Regions from separate parts of the Homo sapiens genome. Here regions 1, 2 and 3 are each reported to be linked to region 4. Evidence: microRNA targets listed by miRTarBase, many of them from high-throughput screens and not tested one by one. Region 4 holds a microRNA gene; each other region holds the end of a gene's coding sequence.

Evidence for each region. Region 4 holds the annotated microRNA hsa-miR-5007-3p (AUCAUAUGAACCAAACUCUAAU, at 4,067-4,088, opposite strand). A microRNA usually pairs through its seed, bases 2 to 8, with sites in the 3' UTR of a target mRNA and lowers its output. Matches are read on the target gene's strand: a 7mer-m8 pairs with bases 2 to 8, a 7mer-A1 pairs with bases 2 to 7 and ends in A, and an 8mer does both.
Region 1: miRTarBase lists SMIM13 as a target of hsa-miR-5007-3p. Seed matches in the 3' UTR shown: 7mer-A1 at 6,162-6,168, 7mer-A1 at 6,035-6,041 and 7mer-A1 at 4,596-4,602.
Region 2: the mRNA of PDK3 is a reported target of hsa-miR-5007-3p. The part of its 3' UTR that is shown has no 7-base or 8-base seed match.
Region 3: miRTarBase lists UBE3A as a target of hsa-miR-5007-3p. Seed matches in the 3' UTR shown: 7mer-A1 at 1,935-1,941, 7mer-A1 at 2,498-2,504, 7mer-m8 at 3,683-3,689, 8mer at 6,292-6,299 and 7mer-m8 at 6,673-6,679.

What each region holds. Positions count from the first base shown.
Region 1 is chr6:11,133,454-11,141,851 of GRCh38, reverse strand. SMIM13 (small integral membrane protein 13) reads right to left here. Exons shown (of 2, transcript NM_001135575.2): 2 at 3,119-7,449. The coding sequence ends at 7,250. Among named protein-coding and RNA genes, the nearest start is that of ERVFRD-1, 26 kb to the right of the region's middle.
Region 2 is chrX:24,532,035-24,540,432 of GRCh38, reverse strand. PDK3 (pyruvate dehydrogenase kinase 3) reads right to left here. Exons shown (of 11, transcript NM_005391.5): 11 at 6,011-6,504. The coding sequence ends at 6,361. Among named protein-coding and RNA genes, the nearest start is that of PDK3, 71 kb to the right of the region's middle.
Region 3 is chr15:25,332,460-25,340,857 of GRCh38, reverse strand. It overlaps UBE3A (ubiquitin protein ligase E3A), which reads left to right. Exons shown (of 13, transcript NM_130839.5): 12 at 630-773; 13 at 1,601-7,130. The coding sequence ends at 1,721. All of the region lies in intron 146 of SNHG14 (small nucleolar RNA host gene 14), which reads right to left. Among named protein-coding and RNA genes, the nearest start is that of SNORD109B, 58 kb to the right of the region's middle.
Region 4 is chr13:55,170,199-55,178,596 of GRCh38, reverse strand. MIR5007 (microRNA 5007) reads right to left here and starts at 4,143; the gene lies at 4,049-4,143. The region is part of intron 4 of LINC02335 (long intergenic non-protein coding RNA 2335); the gene reads right to left.

The sequences.
Region 1 (8,398 bases), not on the chromosome of region 4:
GTGGAGACAGGGTTTCACCACGTTGGCCAGGATGGTCTCCATCTCTTGACCTCGTGATCTGCCCACCTTGGCCTCCCAAAGTGCTGGGATTACAGGCGTGAGCCACTGCCCCCAGCCTCTTTTTTTTTTTTTCTTTCTTTTTAAAAAAAGGTTTATTTGGCTCTTGACTTGACTGGCTGGAAGACTGGACATCTGGTGAGGAACTCAGGCTGCTTCCATTCATGGCAGAAGGTGAAGGGGAGCCTGCATGTGCAGGATTGCATGGAGAAGAGGAAGCAGGGGTTGGGGAGGAACTGCCAGGCTTTATTTAACAACTAGCTCTCTTGGGAACTAATACAGCAAGAACTCACTCGCTACTGAGAGAATGGCACCAAGCCTTTCGTGAGGGATCTTCCCCTATGATCCAAACACTTCCTGCTAGGCCCCACCACCAACACTGGGAATCAAATGTCAACATGAGGTTTAGCGGGGACAAATATCCACACTGTTAACAGCCTTAGTTCTTTTTGTGCTGCTATAACAGAATACCTGAGACTGGGTGATTTATAAAGGACAGAAATTTATTTCTCACAATTCTGGAGGCTGAGAAGTCCAAGATCAAGGTGCTGGCAGGTTCGGTCTCTGGTTCCAAGATGGCATCTCCTTGCTATATCCTCCGCAGAGGAAGAACACTGTGTCCTCATATGGAAGAAAAGAGAGCCCACACCTGCGGATCACCTGAGGTCAGGAGTTCGAGACCAGCCTGGCCAATGTGGTGAAACCCTGTCTCTACTAAAAATACAAAAATTAGCGGGGCATGGTGGAGGGCACCTGTAATCCCAGTTACTCGGGAGGCCGAGGCAGGAGAATCGCTTGAACCCGGGAGGCAGAGGTTGCAGTGAGCCAAGATCGTGCCACTGCTCTCCAGCCTGGGAGACAGAGTGAGACTCCATCTCAAAAAATAAAAAAAAGGGATCCCATGCCTGAAAGCCTTTTTTATAGTGACATTAATCCATTCATGAGATCAGGGCCCTCATGACCTGAACACCTCCCATTAGGCCCCACCTCCCAACCCTATTGCATAAAGTTTCCAACACATGAATTTTTGGAGGGAACAAAAACATTCAAACCACAGCAGTGTCACCTTGGGTCTCTTCTTATTCCACCCCCCTACCCTGGGGAATCCTATTTTTGCATACAGCTTCAAATGCATACACATAGTGATAACACTGAGTCTGTGTTTTCAATCCATGTCCCTCATACTATTTGTACAACTGGTTATTTCTGTCTACGTAATATCATATAAGCACCTGAAATTCAAATATGGTATGCCCAAAACTGGACTCCTATCTTCCACCTCCCTATGCCCAATCCCAAACCTACTTCTCTTGCTGTATGCATCCCCCCATGTTATCAACTGCTAAATGTTGAAATCATCCTTCATTTCTCCTTCTCCTTCACAATCTAATCTCAAGTCCTATTGATTTTTCATATCCTCAAATTTCCCATGGTCATTGCTCCTTTCCAGTCTGCCATTAGTTTTGTTTTCTTGCTTGGACCAGTTAAGAGACATCCTGTTTCCATCGTGCCTCCAACCAGTCCTCCTCCTTGCAGTTAGCACGAGCAACTAGTGCAGATGCCTGGAAGATTAGTCGACTACTCAACATATGTTAAATAAGCAAATCAGTGCTCTCTGTTTAAAATAGTTTAGTAGTCTCTGTCCCATATGACATGAACTTCAAAGCCTTTGCCACTGCACACAAAGTCTTTTTGTGACCTAGACTGTACATCTCTATTGTCAAAACAGTGGACCCCCACCCCCACCCCCGGACACGTGCATTCTCTATTTCAGGAATGACCAACTATCTATAGTTCTCCAAGCAAGGCACCTTCCCATGACACTGCCTGTGCACATTCTTTTATCTAGAATCCTCATCCTCTACTTGGAAAACTCCAACTCCTTTCTTCAAGATTCTTAGTGAAGCTTTTGCTGTCCTTCCCTCCTTCCTCCTCTAACCCCCACAAAGTTCTTTGTAAACAGCATCATTCTTACAATCCAGCTGAATTACTTACACAAGATAAACTAATGCACTTGTAGAGATGCCCAGGGGGTGGGAGGCCAGGATGAGGAAAGAGCATTCTCGAAGCTCCCCCAGAACATTCCTCTTCCATTTTCAGGAAGTTCCCTCCTCCTTTTAAGAGCCACCAGACATAACAGACCTTAAGATAAGTCTTCCAAGTCCCTGACATGGCCCCCAAGTCATAGTTACCTTCTCCATTCCAACTGTAGCCATCATGTGGAAAATATTAGTGGCCATTCTGAGGCTCACATCATATGCTTAAAATGAGTCACTGTTCTCAGATTCCCCTTTTCTATGGCTGTATTTAGTGTCATCACTCAGAACTACTTCACCTAATTTCCATCCCAAACTTATCATACACGTCACATTCATTTTATCTTCAATTCCCTATCCCTTTCCTTTCATCCAGTTTACCAGTGCCTTACTGATCCAACTTCTCTCATGACGCAGCCCAAATTCCAGGGCCAATCTCCAGCAATCTCTAATGACCCTGCCCTTCAGACACACCTGCCTTGCAAAATCCAACCCTAGCACAATCCACTTCTTCCCATCCTACATTCTTGGCAGCTGAGCACTCCTGGAGAAGTCACAACTTGCCCCAGCCAATGAAATTCATGGTTTTCTTTCTCAATTGCATTCTCAAAGAAACTCCTCCATCTTTTTACTTGGCTTTGATGAGTTTCTTCAATCTTCCTGGTGGTTAATACTAACAAAAATGTGAAACATGATCTGTGGCAAACAGGTTAACAAAACAACCTTGAGGGTGTTGAATACAGCATGGGAAGAAAACAATAAGGTAAATGTAATAATGTAGCTCTAACACTATATGTGTGTGTGTGTGTCTGTGTGTCCTTTAATGCTATATATATGTCCTAAGTCATTTACTTTCATGGCACTAAGAAATATTATTGCTATTCTCTTAATTCTTCTAGACTTTTCATTTGAAAAATGGGGTGAAGTGTGGACCATTAGTAAGAATGGCTGCTTTCAAATCCCTTCATGTCCAAGGCACCCTTCATACTTATTATCCTTTATCAACCAGAGACACATAACTTTTGTTGTTTTCAATTTAATTTATTCTATGCAGTTTAAAGTGAAAGTTAAAACATCATACAAACCACAGAAGCTTCATAGTACTGACCAGTTTTAAAACAAAAACAGTGAATGATCATTTACACACATTCCTCATCTTTAATTTTACATCTTGTTATATATACAAAGGTACTATTAAAACACGTAATTCTAATTATTTATAAACCTATTGTCAAGCAGCAAGATGGCAATGCATCATAGCAGACCACAGAATATTTCCTTCAAGGAATCACAGCAGCAGTATTTGGTGAATGGTTATGCATAGAACCAACTTGGAGGATCGTGTTAAACATTCCCCATAAAACAGGTAGCACATGTACACCAACAAATGAAAAATGTAACTTTAATTGACATAAGATAAAATGTTACTCTTTACACTTTAAGTTAAAAACTATAGGACACTTTAGAAGCAGACAATACAAGGTGCTTTAGTTCTAGACTTCACAACAGAACACTATTCCATTAGTCGCTTGAGAGTCCATAACCTCTGAGGACTGCTCAATGGCTTTTTAAAGTCAACCTCAAATATAAAAAGCACTTTAAGTTTACCAGTCAAAATCTAGTTATATCAGTTACATCTTACGTTACAACATACTACTTGAGAAAACTGACTTTTAAAAAAGACTGCATTGTTGACTAATTTCAAAGATTGCTGCTCTTAAAAGTAAAAATGCACCACTTTCAAATCTTTCAACATGTTTTAAGATATCATATTTTGTGAATCCATTACTTTATATATTCCAAACCTTCAGCAAAATAAAATTAAAATGGGTTTTAAACCTAATATCTCTAAAGAAATGGGTCTGCATGTCTGTGAAGTGGCTGTCCACCGCACAGCAATATGTTTGTTTCAACTGTGAAAACATCACTACAAAATCCATCAAGTGAATTTTATATTCATTTTGATGGAAATATCAAAAACCTCATTTAACAGCACTACACAAATATTTAGTGTTTTTGGCATTTAAATCAGAGCAACGCAACCAATGCAATTGGTACAGGCAATTTTCACAAAAAGTTTCAAAGGCAGAACAATTGGAAATGAATGGCTGGTTGGGAAGGAAATAAAACAACCTACCAGAGTCCTCAATTTTAGAATTAATCTTCAAAAGATGGCATGCTGATCACCATCATCCTTTGTGAGGGGTTAGACAAGATTCTAATACATGTATGTGTTTTTAATGCTTATAAACTTTTAAGCTCTAAAATTAACCACAGGCTAGTCCACCTCCCACTGAGACTGCAAATGTAGTTGTGATGCAGTTCCAGTAAGTTTTAGCTACAAAAGCACTAAAACAGGAAAACAAACACTATACCACATAAATAATTCTGCGTTCACTATCTTGCCTTTCTTAGTGGCATTAAGAAATATGTACCATGGTAAGTGTGTTGTGAGGTGCACGAAGAGAAAAAAGTTCTAAACAAAGGATTTGTTTATAGATCTTCATATTGGCATCAGTGATGTTTCTTTACCCTCCCTAAGTGAGAGTCTAAGAGCTAACTAGTATGCTTTTAGGTATATTTCACAAGTTAAATAGAGTATTTCTTAAAATTACATAAAATAAGACATGCTTGAAGCATAAATGTCAATAAATAATGCCAACATATATACCTCTACAAAGGTTAACCTGTATTAATTTGGGCATGACCCTTGTAGATTTCAGGGGCAGAGTTACATCAGCCATCATTCTTTAATAGTGACATAACAGGAAGCTCACCAGCTACTTTAAGTTTTCCAGCAACTATTATATAAACCTTAGGTATCCACCATAAAACAGAATCCATAGTTCAAAACAATAGACTATGAAAAATCTAATTTAAATATCCTCCCAGTACCAAATAATGCCCCCAAAAGTTTTTGGGGGCATTATTTTTTTTTCTGATAATCATTTTAAGATGATATTTAGCTAGTAGGAAGCATTAAAATTAACGCTTGAAACTGTCACTGTTTTGTTATGCCCTAGAGTCACATAAAAATAGAAAATTGTATCTAATAAAGAAATGAAGACAGAGACTGTGCCTTGCTCTCAGCTGCTAGGAAATCTTCCCCTAGCAAACACATAAAACTAAAGTTATGTTCTGTGAATTCTCTTTTAGTATCTCCAAGAGCTACAATATAGCAAAAAGGTGTTCATCACAAACATTGGGACAGAGCCAGTGAACTGTTAAACAAAACTCTAAGCAAGAAGTATGAGGTATCAAACATAATAACACACCATCATAAAATAGAGGTTAAATAGATATTTTGTGATGACTAGTCCTTAATAAAGGTTAAGAAAAACATAAAAAGAACTTGGATTAATAAAGTAAGTTGGCTTTGCACTTCATTCTTGTACAAAGCAGGTAACACTAAACAGGAAGGTTGTTTAATTCACATCTCTTCTCCCTGGTAAACACTCAGCCCAGAGTTCAGTTGAGACAAACACGGAAACCTGGCAAGAGAGTCATTTTACAGCTAAGCGGGAATTTTCACCCACTACTGTTTTCCTCAATACGCATTACCTTTGAGGTCTTGTCACTGAATTGTTTGTGAAGAAGTGTTTTTCTCCACAACACATTCCTTGAGCATAAAGTCCTCCTATACAAAGGGAGTAACTAATCCCACTCTTCCTAAAGTAGAAGATAGTTCTTAGATTCCTAAGTTACTACCCTGAAATCTTGGTTACCCCCTCCCCCCCAAAAACATGTGTTTCACACAGGATTACAAGTTTAACATTGTAAGAGTCAGAATCAAATTCCCCAATAAATAACTGCTATCTTAAAAAGAAAAATAAATTTACAAGCTACCATTTTTAATTTAACCTAAGACACTACCAATTGTTAAGATGCACCATATGTATCACTAAGAAAAAACACTGCCCATTAAACTATGACACAATGCTTTCATATCACAGAAAATGTTTATATTTATTGAAACAGCGCTTTGAGTTAAACAGATTTTTATCACATCAATCTTGTGCATATGTAAAGAAAATGTGTGAAATAAATTGGTTAAGTTATAATTATAACTTCATATTCTGAATCCAACTCTTCTGAATCACTTTTCAAACCACAGTCATTGATGTCTGCATTTTTCCACAGAACGTCTCTCCCGGTGTTGTCAAGAGTACTGGTTATGCAGCACTTCTTGAAAGAGTGCTCCAACACTGTCTTCTGTTTAATGGCAGTGGGGAGCTTGGGACAAAACGATGTTTGATGCCTTAATGATAGTCCTGCTCGACGCATGAATCGGTCACACCAGCCTCTTGTGGCTTTGAATTTTGTTTCATCAATTCCTAGGGTTTTGGCAACTTCTCCTGCCTTCAATTGCATTGCTTGGCGTGTGATAGGCAATCCTTTTGCACGTGTCTCACTGACGAAACGTAGTACAGCTTCATCTACTTGTGGGTACCTACCTTTCTTAGGTCCCGTAAAACATTTTGTTGTTGCTTTGCAGGAAAATATGGAATTGCGATCATTTCTCCAGCGACGAATATTTGCTTCACTAATATCAAATGTACGCCCTGCTGCTCTGTTTCCATGCTTTTCTGCATACACAATAACTTTTCGTTTCAATGCTGAATCATAGTGTGATCTTTTTGAAGACATTTTAAAATGTCAATTAAACCTGACACATTTGATACCAACAAAACACATGTTGGTTAAAGGGATGACACGATGACAAGCTGTAAATTCACACATGCACACGGTAGGAGCGTTACATGACTATCACCTGGTTGACAGTAATGAGATGCATCCCAATTTCAGATAAGTTAAAATGGGAAGAAAAATGTACATTTTAGGGCTAACAAAATATGGTTTTTCAAGCCTTTAATGTTTACCAGATCTGCACCAGTGCAAGAAAATAAGCCCAAAAGCCAAGGAATAAGTGTATAAGTAGAAAGCTGGTGAAACAAAAGATTATCTTTAAGATGAAATTTATAATAGTCCAATTTGGTTTCAGTTCCCTTTATTTTTATATGGCTTACATGTAAATCTTTTTTAAAATTCGACTTAAAATCCAATACAAATGTTCTTCAGTCATTAGTAAATTTCAAAGCGAAGTCAGTAAAAGACAGAAGCTGGCAACTGCCTTTTCATCCTTCACAAGTACAGGACTATGTCAGGGGTCTGTGGCCTTCATCAGCAGGTGCCCTCCTTTGGCGAGCGGATCTGATTCTGTGTGGAGAGGAGGAAGTGTCTTCTTCAGTTTCAGACCCTGAAGGCTCATGATCTCCCTCTTGGGATCCTGTGTCTCCCACCAGTTCCCGGAGAAACTTGAATTTTGATAAAAAAAGATGCCATACAAAATACCAACCTACAGAGAAAGACAAAAACATTAAGAAAAGTTATTACACACAATGTTATCAATTCAGAATGTTACAGTTAATGGGGGGTATATTACAAAATACTATATAAAAATATACATAATTACAAATATATAATGATATAACAAACATTTTTTGTACAAGGAATGAGGATAAACTCTGGGATTACAGTAATGACAAAAACAGTCTCTACCCTCATAGAATTTAGAATTCGGGCTGAGTCTATCTACAGTAAAATCATAATGAGTTTATGATATCTAAGTAAAAGTGTTACTTATACTAAAATCAAATTTTTGAGAGCATTTTTCTGGGAAAGAAAGAATTCACTTTGCCATTTACTTGGACTTTCATATCTCGGTGCTATTTATTTACTAAAAGCAAGTTTGTTTCGATCAGAATCCATAAGGCCTTAAACAGCAGGACTTAACTGCACTATGATGAAAACTACTCAGTCAGGACCAAGCTATTCGTAAGTTTCTGGAAATAATTTTTCAAAGAAAATACATTTTCTTAAATTATATGATGAAAGACTAAAGCCACGGCACCAATATCTTAGATTCAAGATGTTTAAAACACAGATTTTTAAAATACGATATTTTCACATCAATGTCATTAAAAAGTATGACTAATTCTCTTTTAACAAAAAAAAAAAAACAAGTTTTGTTTTTGCAAGGAGTAGTAAAGGTTTTTAAATGTTCGCTAATAAGGAACAAACATTAATCAATAAAGGAACACACAGGAGAAAACCTCTGAACCTATGCTTGGTTGCTCTAAAATGTTAAGAGCATAAAATTAACTAACTTAACCACGCTAACAAGGTTTTTCATGCTTACGTGTTTTCTTGATGCTGTCTACTTTAAAGACTCTGGTTGCATAGAATAGAAATGAAACACAGCATATTTTGTGAAAACAAAATACAACCAGCTTTTCTAGCCGTGT
Region 2 (8,398 bases), not on the chromosome of region 4:
AGTCAGAACTTCTACATCAGTGGACTCAACACTTACAAATTGGACTGAAACATTTATATGGACATTAAAACGGGGCAGAAATCAAAGTAGATGATATATATGGAAAATTACCATGAAGAGAAGCACATCCTGTGGAGCTGTATATAGGATGCTGGTTTCAATCCGGATTCTTCGGTCACTTCTATTCCTAAGGGTAAATATAACATCATTCCTCTTTCCTTATCCCAAATCGTCTGCTAATTCCCACTTCCAACTTTTAGCAAAAAGGATTGTGAAAATCAGACTGAGGTGACAATTCTAAAACTAAGATGAATGAAAATGAAAATTATTAAGACCTGGAGCATTTTTCAAAAATAAACTAGAGAGGCCTTTTCCCTCTGATAGTCTATTTTACAACTAGTAAAGCGCATCATACAGAAACTTCCAATTCCTTAGAAGACTACAAAGGAATAAAATATGACACAGGTACAGTATTAGATGGATGGAAGTTTGACAGAAGCATAAAAACTCCACTTCACACTCTGTACAAATTTGGTATTGACCAGGAGGCAGTTTTTCACTTAAGATCTTTGAAACCAAGCAGTTGGGTGAAAAATTCTAAGATAACATTTCGAATGCTTTAATCAACAGACATATACAAATGAATTTTAAAATAAAACCAAGGCATCAATGAAGAAGATCTAACATGAAAGTCACCACATCTCACAATGAGAATCCGATCAGATGGAAGAAGGCAAAAGTCTAAATCATAGAGTGGCGGAGGGAGGCACGGGAGAGACGGAGGGCTCTGGGACTAAATCATCAGGGCATGGCCACCTGATGTCTTCCACTTTCAGGGTCCCAGGGCCCTAGGTGGAGGTTTGGGACAAATATGGTATTTGGTCACAAGGAGCAACAGTACGATCTGCTGTATCTGGAATGGGAAAGGCGCACAGAATCCTGGAAGGACTGAAGACATCAGATGCTATGATAACAAGATGGAGAGTACGAGGGCACAAGAGCTGTAAGGAGGCTCTGTGCTCTTCGGTGACAGGCATCAATCACACCACAGCAAGATGTCATTAAAAAGTTACTACTTTAGTGGAAGATCTGGAGTAGCTACAGGAAAAACTCTTTGGGAAAGTCCAGGTGGTAGAGAGAAAATACACATTTAAGCACTAGGAATAACTGTGATGCCACGCTCAGAGCAGGTGGGAGAAAGCAGTTCTCTCTGTTTGACTTGCAGAAGGCAATCTTTCTTCACAGAGAGGACCACAGCATTCAGTCCTCTAGAAAGTTCTATTAGTCTTGATCTTGTCTCTACAAAGAAAATAATGAGAATATCCATAGTGAGTTTGTGAGTACAACCTCCTCTGTTTTGACCAGGACTTTTAGAGTATTTCATTATAGTGATAATTCAAAAACCCTTGCCATATCTCAGAATTATTTTCTACAATTACTACAGAAATAGAATGACCATTTAATTACTTATATATACTTTAAAACGGTTCTTTACTGTCAGTGAAAACTCTGGTTAGAAATATAGAGTGACTGCTAAAAACTATGAGGTTTCTTTTTGGGGTGATGAAAATATGCTAAAGTTAGTGGGAAGGGCTGCACAACTCTGTGAATATACTAAAAAATATGGAATTGTATACTTTTATTTATTTATTTATTATTGAGATGGAGTCTCGCTCTGTCGCCCAGGCTGGAGTGCAGTGGCGTGATCTTGGCTCACTGCTGCCTATGCCTCCTGGGTTTGTCTCGTGCCTCAGCCTCCCAAGTAGCTGGGATTACAGGCACCCGCCACCACCGCCCGGCTAATTTTTGTATTTTTAATAGAGACGGGGTTTTGCCATGTTGTCCAGGCTGGTCTTGAACTTCTGACCTCAAGTGATCCACCCGCCATGGCCTCCCAAAGTGCTGGGATTACAGGCGTGAGCTACTGTGCCCGGCCAGAATTATATATTTGTAAAGGGTGAATTTTATGTTGTGTGAATTAATCTCAATAAAACTCTCACTTAGAAACTGTTTTGAAAATAAATTTTCTTAGAACCTCTCATGTATAAATACCTAGTGAATTTACCATACTTACTAAAGTCTTTCCCCAAATCTCTACCGATTATTTGTATAGTTTAACAATTTTAACTGTCAGGCTAAGCATTTTAAAATTTTAAGAACTGCTTTCTGCTTAAATTTGTTCACCTAATAATATATTAGAAGTTAAGACTAATAATCAGCATACAACCTTCAGTTTAAAATTTAAACCTTAGTTTAAACCTTAGTTTAAAAATTGCCTTTAAAATAATATTCAATTAAAGCCACCTTTTTACAACCAAACCTTTTTCTAAAGATGGCTTCTGCACTACTCAAATTACTCCACATATCAGAGCAATAGTTTGAGCAGTTTGAATCAACTGGTCACATCGATGCTCAACATTCTATTTGACTTACATACAGACTGAAAATGGAATCAACAGAAATTGATATGATCCAGGTATTTCAAGCTGATTTAGCTTAAACTTGGCTGGGAATGGTGAGAGTAAGTATGTTTGTTTCCACAAACCAAACTTCTCTAAACTTCATCATTTGAGATGAGTGGCCAGTCCAGCAATATTGCGTAGCAGTCCACCATGACACTTCCATAGAAAAAAATAAACATCCATATGGATATCATTTATAACACTTGTCAGAGAAGACCAACGCTACTAAATGGTACAATACTGCAAAGCTATATAAACTGTATTTGTGTACAAATATCTTTCTGTTGCATTGTGTTAAAGATGTTAAAAATCAAGGTTTTCAGGATAATAAGAAATATATACAATTAAAATATATTGGGGAGAAACATTACAATGTTAAAATAGAATAAAATATCAATATGAACTTATGATTTAAAATATATTTTAAATATAGCTATATTTTATAGCTCTGTCTGTCAAGGAAAAGGGCCTAAAAAAGGTATAACAAGCATCCCCAATTATCAGATTAGCATCTCTAATACTGATTAAAAAGAAACAGGGCTGGGTGCAGTGGCTTATGCCTGTAATCCCAGCACTTTGGGAGGCCAAGGCAGGCAGATCACCTGAGGTCAGGAGTTCGAGACCAGCCTGGCCAACATGGCGAAACCCCAACTCTACTAAAAATACAAAAAAAAAAAAAAAAAAAAAATAGCCAGGCGTGGTGGCTCATGCCTGTAGTCCCAGCTACTTGGGAGGCTGAGACATGAGAATCGCTTGAACCCAGGAGGTAGAGCTGCAGTGAGCTGAGATTGCGCCACTGCACTCCAACCTGGGTGACAGAGTGAGACTCTGTCTCAAAAAAAAAAAAAAAAAAGAAAAGAAAAGAAACAAGACTCCTTGAGGGAAACAGTTGATTCTAGGACACAGGCACAGAAGGTATAAGATGAATCTAGGATATCATCTTGGGCAAGAAAAGCTTTCAAAGATTAATGAGTTTTGGCAATAGAACACTAAGGATCCAGCTGGAAATAGCTCTCATTGGCCAAAGGTATGTCAATTCAAGCATCAAAAAGGAAAATGACTGTTACATGCAATAACATGGATGAATCTCACATAAAGCCAGACACAAAAAGAGTATAGACTATGTGTTCCTTGTAAATTCAAGAAGAGAACCTATGGTGATAGAGTTAGAAAAGCAATTATATGGTGGAGGAGGGAGGGACAACTGTTTGACTAGAAAGGAGTCTTTGTGGGTAGAGGAAATATAGATGTAAAAAAAAAAGCTGTAAACTTAAGATGTGTGCACTTTACTATTACTATATGTTATGCTTCAATAAAATAAGTGCCAATTAAAACATATCAAAGTAACAAAATCTACTATAACACTAAAAAAGACAAAGCCATAAACTCATTTGTTAACCATTTAAGGTGGCTTTTAACATATTTCTTACCTGGAAAATTGGTAACTTGAAGGGAATTTAATTGTCCCTTTAAATTTAAAAGGAAGGAGTTAAACAGTTACCAGAGGAACTGTACTTCAAAATACCTAAATGGCCTTATTTGATGAGGAAGAGCTTTACTTTATAGGAGAATAATTGACAAAGGAATGATTTAAAAAAAAAACATTCTTTTATAAACCCAAATAAAATTACTGTGTTAATTTTAACACAGGCCGAAATGATCAATTGGGGTAAAAACCATTAGGTGAACAGCTGATGGGTAAGTATACATTTGCATAGTGCCAAAATAACACCACACAGATTATTTTCTAGTGAAAAAGGGAAAAATAACTATAACTCAGAGGGATCAGACAGCCATCACCTAAACTATGCTCAATCATAACATCACTAATGGTGGGTCAATGAGATGTCATGGGTCTCAGTGTAATTCTGCAACAGTGTTTATGGATATTCTAGCAAAAAATGCTCCATTAGCTCTTTCCTTTCCTTTCCTTCCCTTCCCTCCCCTCCCCTCCCTTCCCCTTCCCCCTCCCTTTCCTTCCTTCCTTTCTTCCTTTCCTTCTTTTCCTTCCTTTCCTTCCTTCTTTTCCTTCCTTTCCTTCCTTCTTTTCTTTCTTTTTTTTTTTTTTGACCAGCATGGACAACATGGCAAAACCCTGTCTCTACTAAAAATATAAAAATTAGCCAGGCATGGTGGCCCACGCCTGTAATCCCAGCTACTCAGGTGGCTGAGGAATGAGAATCACTTGAAGCCAGGAGGCAGAGGTTGCAGTGAATGATCATTGACATGGAAAGATGGGATGGTTAAATGAAACAAAAGCAGGTTGTAAAATAGTATGAATAGTGTAATCTCATTTGCAAAAAAAATACATATATACACAAATGGCAAAATATCTGGAAGAATATACACGAAGCTATAGCAGTGGCAATCTCTGGGTTTTGGGAACACAGAGGTTTCTCCTTCTTTTTTGGCTTACTTATGTTTTCTTTCTTCTTCTTCTTCTTCTTCTTTTTTTTTTTTTTTTTTGAGATGGAGTCTAGCTCTATCGCCCAGGCTGGAGTGCAGTGGTACTATCTTGGCTCACTGCAACCTCTGTCTCCTGGGTTCAAGCAATTCTCCTGCTTCAGCCTCTCAAGTAGCTGGAATTACAGGCGTGTGCCACCACACCCGGCTAATTTTTGTATTTTTAGTAGAGACAGAGTTTCACCATATTGGCCTGGCTGGTCTCCAACTCCTGACTTCAAGTGATCCACCCACCTCGGCCTCTCAAAGTGCTGGGGTTACTGGCGTGAGCCACTGCGCCCAGCCAATGTTTTCTTATTTTTTATAATGCACATATACTGCTTTTTTGTTAATACAGGATTATTTTAAGTTAAATGAAGCAGAACCCCACTGTTGCTAGTAGAGTTGAAGCTTAAGGGTACATAGTCAGAAGAAAACTACAGATTATTTTCCTTATTACCATAAAACAGTGAAACTTGTTCTGTGATTGATAACTTTTCCTTTATAATGTTAACATTTTTTATTGTGATAAGCTATACATAACATAGAACTTACCACCTTTTTCTTATTTGAGACACGGTCTTATTCTGTCCCCCAGGCTGGTGTGCAGTGGTGCGAATCATAGCTCACTACAGCCTGGAAGTCCTGGGCTCAAGTGATCCTCCCGCCTCAGCTTCCTGAGTAGCTAGGACTACAGACCCACACCACCACACACGGCTAATTTTACCTTTTTAAATTTTTTGCTGAGACAGAGGTCTCACTATGTTGCCTAGGCTGGTCTTGAACTCCTGGCTTCAAGAGATCATCCAGCCTCAGCCTCCCAAAGTGTTGGGATTACAGGCGTGAGCCACCACACCCAGCCCAGAACTTACCATCTTAACCATTGCTACATGTACAGTTCAGTGGCATTGAGTACATTCACGCTGTTGTGCAAGCATCACCACCATCCATCTCCAGAAGTTTTTCATCTTTCCACCTGAAACTTTGTACCCATGAAACAATGCCTCCCCATTCCATCTTCGTCGCTAGCCCCTGGCAACCTCCCTTCCACTTTGTGTCTCTGCATTTGACTACTCTAGGTACTTCACATAAGTGGAATCATAGTATTTGTCCTTTTATGTCTGGTTTATTTCACTTAGCATAATGACTTCAAGATTCACCCATGTTGCAGCACATATCAGAATGTCCTTCCTTTTTAAGGCCAAATAATATTCCATTGGATGGATAGATCACCTTTTATCTTGATTGATCATTTTAACTTATTTTTCAGTTTCAACCTACAACGTTTATGAGGACAAACTGCAAACTTAATTGCTTTTTAAATAAAATTGATGGCAGGCCAAATCCCTGCTTGCTGTTGTGAATACCTCTACACTGCAAGAATTCCTGGAACAGTGAGTGGGACACCTTTATTCAGACAAATCAGATACTTTGTAATGGAAATCAAGGTGGTATATTACTGTTTTGCTTTGTATTTTGAAGCATCCCTGGGTTCACTGCTGGGATTGCTCCAATCATCGGCTTCAGGCGTGGTCTTGTAATGGCGCCATGCGGACTTATTAAAAACTGGAAGTCTCTCAAATGACTCACTTGAAAGAGCCTATTGGAGAAACAAAAATATACACCAAAGGTCGACAGTGTCATTTTTCTCAAGTGAAATAGTAACCCAAATTTTATTATTTAAAACATCAGAAACCTTAATACATATTTTCAAAATGATATTAAAATTACACCTTAGTAGTTTACTTAGACTGGCCAGGAAAACATTAAAGCTTTTTTAAAGGAATGAAAACATTTGCTCATTCAAAATCAGAACTGAAATACACATGACCAGAACAAAACATATTTTAATTCAGCTCATACTGCTTTGAGATGCTCAACTGTTTTGACTATACCTGGTGACTGGTCTCACAAAGGGCCCAGGAAGAGATACAGTCTCATGCATCCCAGGTTTATAAACACACACCATCAAGTATATTAAATATCGCATTACTTAGATGCATGGGCATCTAAGATAAATACTCCCAGTAACTGGTTAAATTCTGGTATCACATACATAGGTTGAGTATCCCTTTGAAATGCCTGGGAACAGGCCGGGCACAGTGGCTCACACCTGTAATCCCAGCACTTTGGGAGGCTGAGGCAGGTGGATCACCTGAGGTCAGGAGTTCGAGACCAGCCTGGCCAACATGGTGAAACCCTGTCTCTACTAAAAATACAAAAAATTAGCCGGGTGTGGTGGCTCACACCTGTAATCCCAGCTACTCAGGAGGCTGAGGCAGGAGCATGGCTTGAACCCAGGAGGCAGAGGTTGCAGTGAGCCGAGATGGCAGTACTGCACTCCAGCCTGGGTGACAGAGTGAGACTCTATCTCAAAAAAAAAAAAAAAGAAAAAGAAAGAAACAAAAAAAAAGAAAAGAAAGAAAGAAATGCTTGGGACCAGAAGTAGTTCTGATTTTTTCCGATTTTGGAATATTTGCATTGTGCTTACCTGTTAAGCATCCCTAATCTGAAAATCTGAAATCTGGGGTGCTCCAATAAGCATTTCCTTTAAGCTTGACCTTTGAGCAAGCATCACGTTGGCGCTCAAAAAGTTCCAGATTTTCAACCATTTTGGATTGCAGATTCTTGGGTTAGGGATGCTTGACCCACAGTGGCATGTTATGCCACTGTTTAAAAGAATGAGCCAGTTCTACATAAATGGATCTGGAAAGATCTCTAAGACAGATTGCAAAGTAAAAAAAATAAGAAGGTGCTGAAATTTCATTTATGTGGGAAAAATTCTATTTTTCCCATATTTATAAATGTAGAATCAACTCTAGGAGGATCCATAAGACGCTGAGACCGGTGGTGATCTTCGCTGAACAGAACTGGCGGTTTAGGGCCAGTGGGAGGAGAGACTTCATTTTTCCTTTTGTAGCTTTTAAATTTTTATTATGTGCCTATATTACCTATTCAAAAAAATGTTACAAATATTCTAGAGTTTAGAAATAAAAGCCCAATGATCACCAATGAATAAGAAAAACTGTGTTACAGAGAAGTTTGTTATTAAATGAATCTTTTACATAACCATATTATGATTACTGAATTCTTGTAGCTTTGGGAAAGCCAGTGAGTTTTTAAAACAAAAGACCAAAATACTTCAGTTTATGAAAATCTGCCTTCTTTTAGATCAGACCTTTCAATAGGCATGTAGTTTTTTAAGTCACAATTTAAAATTATGGTTTTAAAAATCAGTATTTTAATTTTTTTTTTTCTCTTTTGAGATGGAGTCTCATTCTGTCGCCCAGGCTGGAGTGCAGTGGCACCATCTTGGCTCACTGCAACCTCTGCCTCCCGGGTTCAAATGACTCTCCTGCCTCAGCCTCCTGAGTAGCTGGGACTACAGGCGTGCACCACCACATCAGCTAATTTTTTGTACTTTTAGTAGACATGGGGTTTCACCATGTTGGCCAGGCTGGTCTCGAACTCCTGACCTCAGGTGATCCACCCAC
Region 3 (8,398 bases), not on the chromosome of region 4:
TCTCCTCCTCCATACACAGCACATATTACTTGTTTAAAGTATTCTAGTTCATATAAAAATTGAACTTTTGTATTACTGCTATTAGGTATGTAGTTGTTTGCATTTGGGGCCAGTTGGTTGGGGCAGGGGGTCTTTTTTTCTTTTGTCCTTAATCTGTATCACTTTTTCCTCCCAAAGTTGAGTTAAAGGATGAGTAGACCAGGAGAATAAAGGAGAAAGGATAAATAAAATATATACCCAAAGGCACCTGGAGTTAATTTTTCCAAATATTCATTTCAGTCTTTTTCAATTCATAGGATTTTGTCTTTTGCTCATTACTGACTGCATAATGTGATTATACCATAGTTTAAATAGTCACTTCCTGTTACTACACACTTGGGTTTTCTCAATTTTTTACTATTGTAGTACTAATATTTTACTATATTGTAATCTAATCTAAATTTTTACGTATTCAGAGCTGTTCAGGATAAATTTGCTTGGAAATTTTTAAATCACCAGAAGTGATACTATCCTGATAATTAACTTCCAAGTTGTCTCTTAATATAGTTTTAATGCAAATCATAAGCTTATGTTAGTACCAGTCATAATGAATGCCAAACTGAAACCAGTATTGTATTTTTTCTCATTAGGGAGTTCTGGGAAATCGTTCATTCATTTACAGATGAACAGAAAAGACTCTTCTTGCAGTTTACAACGGGCACAGACAGAGCACCTGTGGGAGGACTAGGAAAATTAAAGATGATTATAGCCAAAAATGGCCCAGACACAGAAAGGTAGGTAATTATTAACTTGTGACTGTATACCTACCGAAAACCTTGCATTCCTCGTCACATACATATGAACTGTCTTTATAGTTTCTGAGCACATTCGTGATTTTATATACAAATCCCCAAATCATATTAGACAATTGAGAAAATACTTTGCTGTCATTGTGTGAGGAAACTTTTAAGAAATTGCCCTAGTTAAAAATTATTATGGGGCTCACATTGGTTTGGAATCAAATTAGTGTGATTCATTTACTTTTTTGATTCCCAGCTTGTTAATTGAAAGCCATATAACATGATCATCTATTTAGAATGGTTACATTGAGGCTCGGAAGATTATCATTTGATTGTGCTAGAATCCTGTTATCAAATCATTTTCTTAGTCATATTGCCAGCAGTGTTTCTAATAAGCATTTAAGAGCACACACTTTGCAGTCTTGTAAAACAGGTTTGAGTATTTTCTCCACCTTAGAGGAAGTTACTTGACTTCTCAGTGACCTAACCTCTAAAGTGCATTTACTGATGTCCTCTCTGTGGTTTTGTTGTGGAAAGATTTAGTTAAATGAACTGTAAGAATTCAGTACCTAAAATGGTATCTGTTATGTAGTAAAAACTCAATGGATACAGTATCTTATCATCGTCACTAGCTTTGAGTAATTTATAGGATAAAGGCAACTTGGTAGTTACACAACAAAAAGTTTATGATTTGCATTAATGTATAGTTTGCATTGCAGACCGTCTCAACTATATACAATCTAAAAATAGGAGCATTTAATTCTAAGTGTATTTCCCATGACTTACAGTTTTCCTGTTTTTTTCCCCTTTTCTCTATTTAGGTTACCTACATCTCATACTTGCTTTAATGTGCTTTTACTTCCGGAATACTCAAGCAAAGAAAAACTTAAAGAGAGATTGTTGAAGGCCATCACGTATGCCAAAGGATTTGGCATGCTGTAAAACAAAACAAAACAAAATAAAACAAAAAAAAGGAAGGAAAAAAAAAGAAAAAATTTAAAAAATTTTAAAAATATAACGAGGGATAAATTTTTGGTGGTGATAGTGTCCCAGTACAAAAAGGCTGTAAGATAGTCAACCACAGTAGTCACCTATGTCTGTGCCTCCCTTCTTTATTGGGGACATGTGGGCTGGAACAGCAGATTTCAGCTACATATATGAACAAATCCTTTATTATTATTATAATTATTTTTTTGCGTGAAAGTGTTACATATTCTTTCACTTGTATGTACAGAGAGGTTTTTCTGAATATTTATTTTAAGGGTTAAATCACTTTTGCTTGTGTTTATTACTGCTTGAGGTTGAGCCTTTTGAGTATTTAAAAAATATATACCAACAGAACTACTCTCCCAAGGAAAATATTGCCACCATTTGTAGACCACGTAACCTTCAAGTATGTGCTACTTTTTTGTCCCTGTATCTAACTCAAATCAGGAACTGTATTTTTTTTAATGATTTGCTTTTGAAACTTGAAGTCTTGAAAACAGTGTGATGCAATTACTGCTGTTCTAGCCCCCAAAGAGTTTTCTGTGCAAAATCTTGAGAATCAATCAATAAAGAAAGATGGAAGGAAGGGAGAAATTGGAATGTTTTAACTGCAGCCCTCAGAACTTTAGTAACAGCACAACAAATTAAAAACAAAAACAACTCATGCCACAGTATGTCGTCTTCATGTGTCTTGCAATGAACTGTTTCAGTAGCCAATCCTCTTTCTTAGTATATGAAAGGACAGGGATTTTTGTTCTTGTTGTTCTCGTTGTTGTTTTAAGTTTACTGGGGAAAGTGCATTTGGCCAAATGAAATGGTAGTCAAGCCTATTGCAACAAAGTTAGGAAGTTTGTTGTTTGTTTATTATAAACAAAAAGCATGTGAAAGTGCACTTAAGATAGAGTTTTTATTAATTACTTACTTATTACCTAGATTTTAAATAGACAATCCAAAGTCTCCCCTTCGTGTTGCCATCATCTTGTTGAATCAGCCATTTTATCGAGGCACGTGATCAGTGTTGCAACATAATGAAAAAGATGGCTACTGTGCCTTGTGTTACTTAATCATACAGTAAGCTGACCTGGAAATGAATGAAACTATTACTCCTAAGAATTACATTGTATAGCCCCACAGATTAAATTTAATTAATTAATTCAAAACATGTTAAACGTTACTTTCATGTACTATGGAAAAGTACAAGTAGGTTTACATTACTGATTTCCAGAAGTAAGTAGTTTCCCCTTTCCTAGTCTTCTGTGTATGTGATGTTGTTAATTTCTTTTATTGCATTATAAAATAAAAGGATTATGTATTTTTAACTAAGGTGAGACATTGATATATCCTTTTGCTACAAGCTATAGCTAATGTGCTGAGCTTGTGCCTTGGTGATTGATTGATTGATTGACTGATTGTTTTAACTGATTACTGTAGATCAACCTGATGATTTGTTTGTTTGAAATTGGCAGGAAAAATGCAGCTTTCAAATCATTGGGGGGAGAAAAAGGATGTCTTTCAGGATTATTTTAATTAATTTTTTTCATAATTGAGACAGAACTGTTTGTTATGTACCATAATGCTAAATAAAACTGTGGCACTTTTCACCATAATTTAATTTAGTGGAAAAAGAAGACAATGCTTTCCATATTGTGATAAGGTAACATGGGGTTTTTCTGGGCCAGCCTTTAGAACACTGTTAGGGTACATACGCTACCTTGATGAAAGGGACCTTCGTGCAACTGTAGTCATCTTAAAGGCTTCTCATCCACTGTGCTTCTTAATGTGTAATTAAAGTGAGGAGAAATTAAATACTCTGAGGGCGTTTTATATAATAAATTCGTGAAGAAATGTGTGCTCTTCAGTTCTCAAGTTTTATTATTATGGTATTTATTAAAGTTCTACAATTGTAATAACGTATCCATATGACAAGTTTTAAAGTGGTAATTGAAATAGGTTATCAGATATAGAGTTGTTCACATCAAGTAGACTTTTAACAGAGTCAGAATGAACCTACCCTTAAAATTTTAGAGAAAAAAAATCGTCGGTTGCACAGAATAGCTGCTCTAGCTTGCTTAATTATGCCGGGCATGTTGTCACTCCTCTTACTTTTGCTGCCTTTTCATTACTATTTAATGGAATGTCCCTGAACAATAAGGAAGAGCAAAACATAGACATTTTGACTACAGTGGATACTTCCTCTACCCCAAATGTTATGTTATAAAAGTACTTTTTTTGCCCAGGTACTCTATTATATATTTTGGTTTTCTTTGAATTAGACCTCAATCTCCAGGAAGCTCTGGAGGGAAAAAAAGGAACCATAAACTAAAGTAACTGGTTTTCCAAATAAATGTAAACTTTTTTAACCTTTTATTATTATAGAACATTTCAAACATACATAAAACATGAAAACAGCCTGCAGCCAAACTTTTCTGGACCTTGGCAGCTCCAGCAAATGAGCTGGTCATCCTAACCCTGGTTTCCTGAGACAACTACTTTTGGGGATGCTTGCTTGTATAGGGAGATGATAGATAGATAGATACATATCAAAAAGAAACTTGAAAAAGGCTTCGAACAGAACTTGCCGATGTTACTCATCCCTCCTCGGTACAGACATTCTGTTAGAACAGATGGTTGTAATGGGGCAGCATCACTCCCTATTCCCATTAAAAACATGACCATTCTGAGATTTCAGGCCCCTTCGAGGAATTTTTCTCAAGAATTCCATACAAACTGTCAGAGGAAGAAATGTCGTCCCAAGACTAGTCCCTGTGTAGTCTTGATCCCTTTACCTGCTTACTGTAATTTTTTTTCTCTGACTTTCCGCCAGTGTCTAAGGGCCATCTGTACCCCTCCCACCCTTCCATGAGCCACTGTATAATCCAAAAACACACCTTCCATTTGCTCCCTCACTTGTCTCCTTTTACCTCAACAGTGTTAGTGTGTAAAGAATTGCCTGGGGAGGGTAGAGGGTTTTACAAGTACAGAGTCCCAAGTCTTTTCTCCCCTCCCCGTTAGTGGGTTGGCATTTATTAATAGGCACTGCAAGATTTTGATGCAGGTGTGGGGTAGATATCACTGTGAAAGGCTACTAATGCATGGTAGTTTCACCGAAAGTACAGTCTTCAAGGATCCTTATAATCTCCTCATTGCCAAAATCAGTAACATCTATAACCTTGACAACACCCTAGCTTGGGCTGTTGCTTCTCTGGCTACTTGTTTTTCCATCCCAGTTTACCCAGATTTTAGATGGATACTCCTCCAATTCTGCTTAAAGTCCTTACCTGTTCTTGCCCAGTTCCCTCTAGTCAACCTCAGTCACTCCCAAAGATTCTTCCCCAATCCCATATCTTTTGCTCAGACCTCTGTCTCTGGGATTTCTTTGTTACCTCATAGTCAGTAGTCCTAAAAACAAAATTCTTCATCTTGCATCTCTATCGACCGACCATTCTTTGTTTCTTTTTAAGAAATGTAACCTTCACCCCAATCATCAAAATCTCTCATTCCTCAATTGTCACAGGTTGTCACTTCTTTCCCCCTAAACCTCTCCCATCATTCCTTCCTTCTTTATACTGCCCTTACAGGTCCTGATCCTCTGACTCACCCGGACATTCTTAGCAGCTGCCTAATTTCACTCCCTGACTCTCATCTCCCTCTTCCAATCCTTTTCATTGTGCTAGAACACTATCTTGCTAATTTTAATATCCTCTGCATTCAGTGCCTCCACAGATTGCCCCCTCACTGACCTTTCCAATTTGGCCTTGTGTTACACACTTTCCTCGCTGCATTCCTACCCAGCATCTTCACTTGTCATATTTCTCAAATACTCTTCATGACCAGATATTTAAAGTACCTCATCCATGAAGACTTCATCAACCCCCAAAGTGCCTCCAATGCTTCCGTGGTAGCACAGCATAATGGGGTACATTTCTTAGTTGAACAGTGAGGAGTCACTGGGATTCTTACAGAGTGTCTTAGGGTCTCCTCTTGATACTCTTTCCACATTTCAGTTAAGGAATTTTCTTACATCTTTTTTTCTTCTAATAACCTTTGCCTGGAGTGTAAGTAAATTCATGATAGAGACTGTCATTTTTAAAAAAAAAAACAAACCATTTTGCCTTTCACATGTTATTACCTCCATCTTTCTGTTATCTTGTCAGTGTTGCCACCTAAATGATTGAAAATGACCGAGCATGCAGTAGAATGTAGTGAAGTTTCCTATTTCATCCATTTTTTGCATAAGTGCATTGGTATCTGTATATCCATCTGCCCAAGCACCAGTTGTTGAAAAGACTATTATTTCCCCATGAATGGTCCTGGTACCCTTGTCAAAGAACAGTTGACCATAAATATAAGACTTTCTGGATTCTCAGTCTTACTCCATTGCCCTATATGTCTGTCGTTATACCAGCACCGCACTGTCTTGATGGCTGTAGCTTGGTAGTAAGTTTAGATTTGGGATGTGCAAGTCCTCCATTTTTTTTTTTTTTTTCCCCAAAATCATTTTGTCTGTTTTGGGTCCCTTGCATTGCATATGAATTTTTATATGATCATTGTGTCAATTCCTGCAAAACAGCTGGGATCTTGATAGGGATTTAGTTGAATTGGTAGATAAATTTGAGAAATAACTGCTATTTTAATGGTGTTAGGTTTTCTGTTCCATGACTGTGGGATGTCTTTGCATTTGCTTAGGTCTTTATTTCAGTGATGTTTTAGAGATTTCAGTGTGCAAGTCTTGACGTCTTTAATTTTTTTCTAAGTATTTTACTGATGCCACTTTAATTATATGATTATTTTCTAATTTTTATTTTTGTATTCATCACTGGTGTTAGAAATAAAATTAATTTTTGTATATTGATTTTGTATATTGTAGCTTTTCTAAAATTCTTTTTTTGTCACTTAGTATTTTTTGCATATGAGATCATGCATCTGTGAACAGAAATACTTTTACTTCTTCCTTTCCAGTCTAGATTCCTATTATTTCATTTTCTTGCCTTAGTGTGCTGGCTAGCACCTCCAGTACAATATTGGATAGAAGTGACAAGAGCAGACATCTTTTTCTTGTTCCTGATTTTAAGGGGAAAGCATTCAGTCTTTCACCATTGAGTATGATGTTAGCTAGCTGTGGGTTTGCTTCAAGTTGAGGAAATTCTTTTATTAAACCTAGTTTACTGAGTGTTTTTTAATCAAAAAAAAAAAAAGGAGGGGCTGTGGGTTTTGTTAAATGCTTCTTCTGTATCAAGATTTTCATGTTGTTTTGTCCTTTATTAATATGTTGTATTAATGGACTTTTGTATATTGAATTAACTTTGCATTCCTGGGATAATCTCAGTTGTCCATGCTACATAAACCTTGTTCTATGCTGCTGGATTTGGTTTGCTAGTATTTTGTTTAGAATGTTTGCATCTATATTCATAAGGAATATTGGTCTGTAGTTTTCATATTATATATCTGTCCAGTTTGGGGATGAGAGTCATACTCCTGACAGAATGAATTGGGAGCTTTCCCTGTTCTTAAACCTACTGAGGTATTTTTTAAGTGAACTACTTGGAGACCTTCACCTGTGATCTTCAGATGCTGGGGGACACAGGGATGGTACCTGACTCTGAAAAGGCTCTCAGGGTAAGACGTGTCTGAACTGGCCTGTGGCAGTTAACTAAAGAGTACTCCTACCAATAATGGAGTCAAGATGTATGTTTCCCATAGGCCACGCTGGTCACTGAAAGAGATGGGCTATGAGCCATCTTGAAAACTACCCTGCACAAATGGACTGCCGGCCTGGAGCCAGGCACCCTGCAGCTGAGTGCCATATAATGTTGAAGCTGTTGAGGGAGGAGAGGTTGGAAGCTGCCAGCTTAGAGAATCTCAGCTGTGGTTTCCAGCAGGGTGTATTCCAGGAAAGAAAGTCATTCCCCACCCTGGCTCAAAGTAATAATTAACAGTGACTGGGTAAGGCAGGATCTTTTTTTCTAATTCCCTCCCCTCCAGAAAGGGCAGCAACAGCTCTTGAATGGGAAAGAAGGTGGAGGGAGGAAAAGAAAAACCAATTGCCCCAACACTGCTGTCTTTAAGCTTCCCACCCAAAGACCTCAGTAAGAGGCAGAATTATGTTTTCAATTAAGAGAGAGTTTGGCCTCTTGGTGTTTCAAAAGTGTAGGCTTTTTAATACCTAGAGAAACTGATGATTTGTTGATTACCAAAAAGGGACCAGAAAAGCTACATAGCCTGAGATTTCATCCCCAGAAAAACGAATCCAGAGAGCAGACTTGCAAAAAAAAAAAAAAACCGTTCTGTCTCTGCCTCTCCCACTACACATACACAGTGAGAAAGAGAGTCTTCATGATTTGGTAAATTAGACCCATGGAAAGACTCGGGACATTTAGGATGATGATATTTACGATGAGGAAGATTTCTATGGGAAACTTTTTTTTAACTTGTCTCTAATCCTATTCCAACTGAAGTTTGAATTTTTTTCCTTTCATTAACATTTACTGGGCAAATACCTATTGAATGTTTGCCATTTTGCAGTGTGCCATAGGTTTCAGGCTGATTCAGAGCTGCTTTGTTGAATCAAGAAGTCTGTTACAGGGAGACAATCTAGTTAGACCAGGCATAAGTACAAACCACTAAGGGTAAAA
Region 4 (8,398 bases):
GTGTTGAGGTTCTGACCTTATATATATCCTTCTGCACTGCCCTAGCAGAGATTCTCCATGAGGGCTCTACCCCTGCAGCAAACTTTTGCCTGGACATCCAGGTGTTTCCATACATCCTCTGAAATCCAGGTGGATGTTCCCAAACATTAATTCTTGACTTCTGTGCACCAGTAGGCTCAACATCACATGGAAACCACGAAGGCTTGGGGCTTGCACCCTCTGAAGCAATGGCTTGAGTTGTATCTTGGCCCGATTTAGCCACAGCTGGAGCTAAAGCAGCTGGGATGCAGGACACTATGTCCCGAGGCTGCACAGAGCAGGGGTCCTGGACCCAGACCACAGAACCATTTTTTTCTCCTAGGCCTCTAAGCCTGTGATGGGAGGTGCTGCCAGGAAGGGTCTCTGATATGCCCTGGAGACATTTTCACCATTGTCTTGGTGATTTACATTTGGCTCCCTGTTATTTATGCAAATTTCTGAAGCAGTCTTGAATTTCTTCCCAGAAAATGAGTTTTTCTTATCTGTTGCATCATCAGGTGGCAAATTTTCCAAACTTTTATGGTCTGCTTCCTCTTGAATGCTTTGCTGCTTAAAATTTATTCCAACAGATACCCTAAATCATCTCTCTCAAGTTTAAAGTTTTGCAGACCTGTAGGGCAGAGGCAAACTGCCACCAGTATCTTTGCTAGAATATAGCAAGGTAGCCTTTACTTCAGTTCCCAACAAGTTTGTCATCTCCATCTGAAACCCCTTAAACCTAGACTTCATTGTCTTTATCACTATCAGCATTTTGGTCAAAGCCATTCAACAAGTCTCTAGGAAGTTCCAAACTTTCCCACATCTTCCTGTCTTCTGAGACCTCCATGTCTCTTGGACATTCCAAATTTTCCCACATTTTCTTGTCTTCTTCTGATTCCTCCAAACTATTTCAACCTCTGTCTATTGTCCAGTTCCAAAACTGCTTCCACATTTTCAATCATCCTTATAACAGCACCCACTCTCTGTGTTACCAATTTACTATATTAGTCTGTTCTCGTGCTGCTAATAAAGACATACCCAATACTGGGTAATTCATAAAGAAAAGAGGTTTAATTGACTCACAGTTCCACATGGCTTGGGAGGCCTTGGGAAACTTACAATTATGATGGAAGAGGAAGCACACATGTTCTTCATATGATAGCAGGAAGGAGAAGTGCTGAGCCAAAGGGGGAAAAGCCCCTAAGAAAACCATCAGATCTCATGAGAACTTCCTATCATGAGAACAGTATGGGGGTAACTGCCTCCATGATTCAATTACCTAACATTGGGTTCCTCCATGATATGTGGGGATTATGGGAACTACAATTCAAGATGAGATTTGGGTGGGGACACAGTCAAACCATATCACACATTAAGAAAAATTTTAAAGAGTATTGATTATTTTATGATATAAATAGGAACAGAAATATTTTATCAATGAATGAATATTTAATTTAAGCCAATGACTAAGCTGCTCCCTATTATAGATTATATATTATTAAGGAGTGTGGTTTGTCTTTTCCAACTTGTTTCCATCCTGAATGTTTATTATTCAGGAAACTTTAAGACAATGAGAATTTTAATATTAACATTACATCTTTGACACCTGAGGGAAAAATAAGATGTTAACATAAACTAAAGTCTCACAGAAACCACTTTCTGAGTAATTTCATTGCTCTCCATTATGCCATCTTCTCACAAACACTTTTTAAATTAAACAAAAAGAGATAAACATTATTGCCATGTTCTGTTAAATGGGATGTGTTGGTTAATATTGTATAATTTAAGAATTTTCTTACCCTTCAATTATATATTTGATGGTACTGTAAATTAAGACATGGTAGAAGACATTTTCAAATAAACAACTATTTATTATTGAAGGGAAGTGAGAAAACATTTTCAGTTTGATTAAAATTCATTGAGAGTCTAAATGTATAATACATAATTATCAATATACTTACAAATTGTGAAAATATACATTTGAGAATTTGTAACAGTAAAACCAGCCACCTTTTATTAAAGAGACTGAATATGTTAAAAGGCCCAAAGTTAAATTCTTTTTCCTTTTAGGATAGCCCTTACATTAATTTTCTATTTCTACACAACAAATTGTCACAAACTTAGTGACTTAAAACAATACCTATTCATTTTTTCAGTTTCCATAGGTTAGGATTCCAAGTACATGCTCATGTCCAAGAGGCTGCCTGCACTTCCCTGCCATGAAGCCCTTTCTGTAGAAATTTTCACAACCTCTCTGTTTTGTTCTTTAAGGTCAGCAAGAGAAGAGCTATACAACAATTTATTAAAATGAAGTCTTATAAGTGTATTGTAATCTAATCACTGCAGAGATACCCCAGCACGTTTTGTCATATTCCATTAAATGCAAGTTCCAGTTTTGCCCACATTCAAGGGTATGGTATTATACAATAGGTGACTTCCTGGGGGTTACACTAGAGTGTGTCCACCCACAGCTCAGATTGACTCACATATGTTTATATTTGAAAGGTTGCAATACTAAGGTTGTTTCTGGTATCATAGAATACTTAATAGCATTTACTCAGTATGACTCTTTCAATATCCCTTGAGTAAGTTACTAGTGAGTACTATAAATCTCCAAACCACATAACGTAAAGGAGTGCTCAGAATAGTAAATTACACATAGTAAATATGTAATAAATGTAATGTGTCAACATTATTATTATTTGTATGATTACTGATATATGCATTGGGTTTGAAGATCAGTGTGATAAGCCATACTTGAGTTTCAATGGGACCTGCAATAGATGCACTACAACAGAACAAATAATATGATTGGAGTGACAGAAAAATTAACAACCAAAGATAGATCAAAATCTGAGCTTCCTGATGAACTAGAAACATTGTGAATGCTTAGGTTTCTTGTAATTCTGTAGACTCTCAAACAGTGCTTGTTTGTTTAATTAGTTAATGCAGACTTGGTAGGTGGACTGGAAATGTAGTGACAATGAGTAAAAGATGGGTTTTTAGAGAAACATGTAGGCGGCATTGGGTATGTCTTTGGGATATGTCTATAGTAGGTGAAATTTTGCATCTTTTCTACAGACACTAGCGGAACCAGGAGAGAAGATAATTTCCCTATTATAGCTGATGTCAGCTTACTATTATAAGTAGAAAGGCATGACTCAAAGATAGACTAGTAGAAGAGGGGTATCTCATTAATTATGTCCCCAATAGCTATAATCACTCCTACTTAAAATTTTTTATCCTAACATTACTTTTTTTCTAAGAAGAAATGTTGATAGGCTGTGAAAATAAGACGATCACAAGAAAAAAATAACTCAAACCATCAAATTTACTGTCTTATTTAATGTCTAGCAATTCTTGCCATTTTCAGGGATTCTCTCCTACTCTGCCTTTTACATTGAAGAATATTTATTCTACGTTGTTAGTTCTTGGCTACTGAGCTTTTAGTTTTGACCATATTTATTCGTCGAATCATTAGTTATCACTGGGGTAGTAAGACTGGATATTATATAAACAGTGAAGAGACATCCCTAACAAATATGCTTGTAGAACTGGGGATAGTTAATTATCAGCAGGTTACAAGTGAGCTTAGTCTTTGAAGAATAAATGAAGAAACAAAAGTGAAAACATTGAGGAAAGCATTCCAGAAAGATGAATACAAATGTGCAAAACTTTGGAAACATGAAAATGCATGATGTTTTATAAAGAGAATTTTAGAAGAAGCTTTATGTCTGGAAGGTAAATGAGTTTTGAAGATTTGGCAGCCATGTGAGGCTAAAGGGAGAATCTGGGGCCAAAATATTAACAACTTGGGGGAGCTGAAAGTTTGCAAATATAGAAGTGACGAAGATCTACATTTTACAGACATCTCAGGAGATGAATTTAGGGTTGGTTTTAAATGACAAGAGTTCATTTAGAAAGATGGTACAGTAATACAGGTGAAAAAAATAAAAATTTAATTAAAAGAAGCATTCATCAGTATAAGAAAGAGAAGGCTGATTTGGAAGATATTTGAGGGATAATTTTTAACAGAAATTATTGACTAATTAGAGTTTGGTTCATATGATTTAGCTCTGTGTCAAACCATATCAGCCAGACTCTAATTAGTCACCAAGGTTTACCAAATCTCATGTCAAATTGTAATCCCCAGTCTTAGAGAGGGGTGTCCATTGGGAAGTGACTGGATCATGAGGGTAGAGTTCTCAAAAATGGTTAGGCACCACTGCCTCAGTGCCGTTCTCTGATAGTGAGTCAGTTATCACAAAGTCTGGTTGTTTTAAAAGTGTGTGGCACCACTCCCCTCTCTCTCTTCCTTCTGCTTCAGCCATGTGAAGTGCTGACTCCTTGTTTGCCACCCACCATGGTTGTAAATTTCCTAAGGACTCCCTAGAAACCAAGCAGATGCTGTCATACTTCCTACATACAACCTTCACAACCATAAGCCAATTAAATCTCTTTTTTTTAATAAATTACCCAGTCTCAGGCATTTTTTTATAGCAATGTGAGAATGAACTAATACACTGGCTAAAGAAGCAACATTTACCTCAAACTGCACTGCCCAATAAGATATTCTTGAGCCCGATGTGGTTATCCACTTTTACTTTATATTGATTAATAGGTAAATTTAATTCCTGAGCTGGCATGAAGGAATCCTGAGTCTCAGCAACTCAGGAGATTGAGGCAAGAATTTGAGACCCCCATCTCTAAAACAAAAAATTATATCTCAGTAGAAATAGTCAATTTTAAGTACTCAATAGCTTCATGTGGCTTGTGGCTACCATATTGGAAAGCACAAATAAACAAGATTTTCTTCCTTATTGAACGATCTATTGGACAGCAGTAATATAGAGTCAATTCCTGGTATCCTTTGTGTTTATCAGAAGAAACTTATGAAAAAATCCAATTGGGAAATAACATAATGAGATAAGTCATAAATTTATTATGTTTGCATTAAATGTGGGTATACAATTGTTTTCCACCACTCTTCTGCTTTTACCAATAATGCATCAAGAATATCTGTGTTCTTATAGCTTTCTATTGAGATGCAAAATTGTAGGCAAAATTCCTAAGTGATTATTTATTATCTGCAAGAACATGTAATATTTAAAACAAATAATGATTGCAAAGTTCTCCTCTAATTTATATTATCTAGTTAAATGAGAAATCTTATTTCCCATGCAATAGCTTACAAAACTATATAATACAAAAAATAGAGATTTTCCAATCCAATCTCAGTGTAAAATTGCATATTTTACTTCATATGTATCTGACAAGTGATTCTAAATATTATTACATCTTTATAAGCAATTTGTATAGTTTTTTAGGTCTGACTTTATTATATTTTAAGCTTCTTTACTCCATTGGTATTGATTTGTATGGCATTTTTATACATTTAGAATATAAAATTAATCACAAAGTTGTCTTATAAGTTAAAAATCCCATTTCCCCATTATTTATTTCTTCATTTACTTTGTTTATGATGTAAGTGTAGCCCCTTTAAAATGTTGTTAAATATATCAATATTTCCTTTATGATTTGTGGAATATAACTCTTATTTATGTATAAGATCACTCTTGCCTTCTAGTATCTTGATAGTTCTTATGTTAAAGTATGAATATTTGATCTCCCATTTATTTTTCTATAAATTTATTTTAACCTACTAAGTGGTAGAACATTAAAAAATTGTAGCTATATACAATTGTATGAAAAAAAGAAAAGCACTAAGATTTCTTTGTTTTGTTTTTGTTGTTGTTAAGTGGCAAAAAGTGGCTAAAAAATCCCCTAGACTTTGTATGTTTGCATGCAAAGGATAAGCAGTAGAAATCTAATGTTTATAATAAAATATTGGAATGATTCCAAATAAATTAAAGAAAAAGTAAGTAATATTTTTCTCAATACTATACTCAGGCATTACAATAAGTCAAAAACAGAATAATTTAAGTTTATTTTTTTTAAAAAAAGCAAAATATTCATGCTTTTAAATTTGTGGAAGACCTTATAAAAATAATAACCTAAAAGAATTAACTGATACAATGTTGACAATTGGATTAATGTGATTGAAACTTATAGAGAAATTAAAAGATAAACTTGGCTTTAAGCTGTTGGAAAAATACATAGTTTATATGACAGAAATAAAACCAAGAATAGTATGTTAGAAAATTACGGAATCAAGGTTGCTTATATAATCTGTTCCTTAAGAATAAGTATCAATTAATAACTATTAAGGAAATAGAAACTGCATTGGCAATACCAGCATATCCTGAAGAACAAACTGTAAAACAGACTGAAGTGTTTTATTTCTAGTCAACTAGTTGAATGAAACTCCCATAAAGCCGTAGGTGTGAATGGTTGGAAGGGAAGCAATGCAGAAAGAAGCAGTGTCAAAAGACACTCTATCCCCTAGCCCTGCCCAAACTCATTTTCTTACATATCATTTTTACTCAATGATAGATTGGTGCTGCACATATCCAACTTTATTAATAGATGCGTTTGACTTGGAAAATGCAGACTGTATGGTCACCTGATGTCATCTTCAGTTTGTTCTCTTCTAAGGGCTAATAGTAAGTCAGAAGCTAATTCTCAAGAAGTAGGAAATTTACTTTCAGAAGAGAACATTGATTTACTCCAAAATCCTAGAAGTTGTCCTTGTGGTTCTTCTATTAGTGTCTATCAGAATGGCCTATAAAGCATCTCTATTTACCACAGATACTTTGAATATCAATGGATTTACTGAATCATTAGGCCATGGAGAAGAGCATCTTGTACTTTGGCCTGTATTTATTGAAAAGTCACCTCTTACTATATAGCTCTCAAAGATATAGGCAGCCTTAATATATGATTTGGTAAATATGCTGAAGAAGCACTCTCAACTGTGGTATGTTGTCTCCAAAATCTTGAAAACCCTGCCATGCATTGAGCTTTTACATTTTTTTTGTGACAGTGCAAAATGAAAAAATATATTTGCTACCTTCGAGGCAAGTATAGACATATTCCAGACATTTGAAACCACGAAACTTTAATGAAGAGGTGGATCCATGCATTTTTGTGGAATTACTGCCCAGATTCTGGCTAGAATTTACCTTACGAAACTATGTCATAGTAATTGCTACCTCTTACACATCAGATTCAATAAACTCAATGTCATCAATGTAGTGGACAAGACTGGGGCTTTGTGGAATGTCATGATGATCAAACTCTCTGCAAATCAGATCATATCTAGAAGAAAAAAAAATGATACAACCCTGAAACAAGGCTCTGAAGGTTTACTGTTAGCACAGCTAGGTAAAAGCAACTGACTTCTGAGGATCTTTACAGTATGGAGAAGAAAAGCATTAGCCATATCAGTAGGAGTTTATCAAGTGTTCAATGATGTATTTCATCATCCTGGTAATAAGTACAGTACTTAATAGGTAATTTTTCAATCATCACCCTCCTCCAACCCTCTACTCTCAAGTAGGCTCTGATGTCTATTGTTCTCTTCTTTGTGTCCCTGTGCACTCAATGCATATTCCTGCTATATAAGAGAGACACGTGGTATTTGGTTTTCTGTTCTTGCATTAGTTCACTTAAGTTAATGGCCTCCAGCTTTATCCACGTTGCTGCAAAGGACATGGTCTTGTTCCTTTTCATGTCTGCATAGTATTCCGTGGTATATGTATCCTATTTTCCTTATCCATTCTACCACCGATGGGCATTTAGGTTGATTCCATGTCTTTGCAATTGTGAATAGTGCTCTGATGAACATTCACATCCATGTTTCCTTCTGGTAGAATAATTTATATTCCTTTGGGTATATACCCAATCATGGGATTGCTGGATCAAATGGTAATTCTGCTTTAAGTTCTTTCAGAAATCATCAAACTGCTTTCCATAATGGTTAACCCAACTCACATTGCCCCCAACAGTTTATAAGCATTCCCTTTTCTTTACAACCTCACCAGCATCTCTTATTTTTTTAGTTTTTAATAATGGCTGTTCCGACTGGTTTAAGATGGTATCTCATTGGGGTTTTGATTTATACTTCTCTAATGATTAGTGGTTTGAGCATTTTTTCATACATCTGTGTCTTCTTTTGAAAAGTGTCTGTTCATATCATTTGCTCACTTTTTAATGGGGTTGTTTGTTTTCTTGCCTGTAAATTTGTTTAAATTCCTTATGGATTGTGGATATTAGGCCTTTATTGGATGCATAGCTTGCAAATATTTTCTCCCATTTTGTAGACTGTCTGTTTACTCTGCTGACAATTTCATTTTTTGTGCAGAAGCTTTTTAGTTTAACTAGGTCCATCTGTCAATTTTTGTTTTTGTTGCAGTTGTTTTTGACATCTTCATTATAGAACCTGTGTCAGGGCCTGTGCCCAAAATGGTATTTCCTAGGT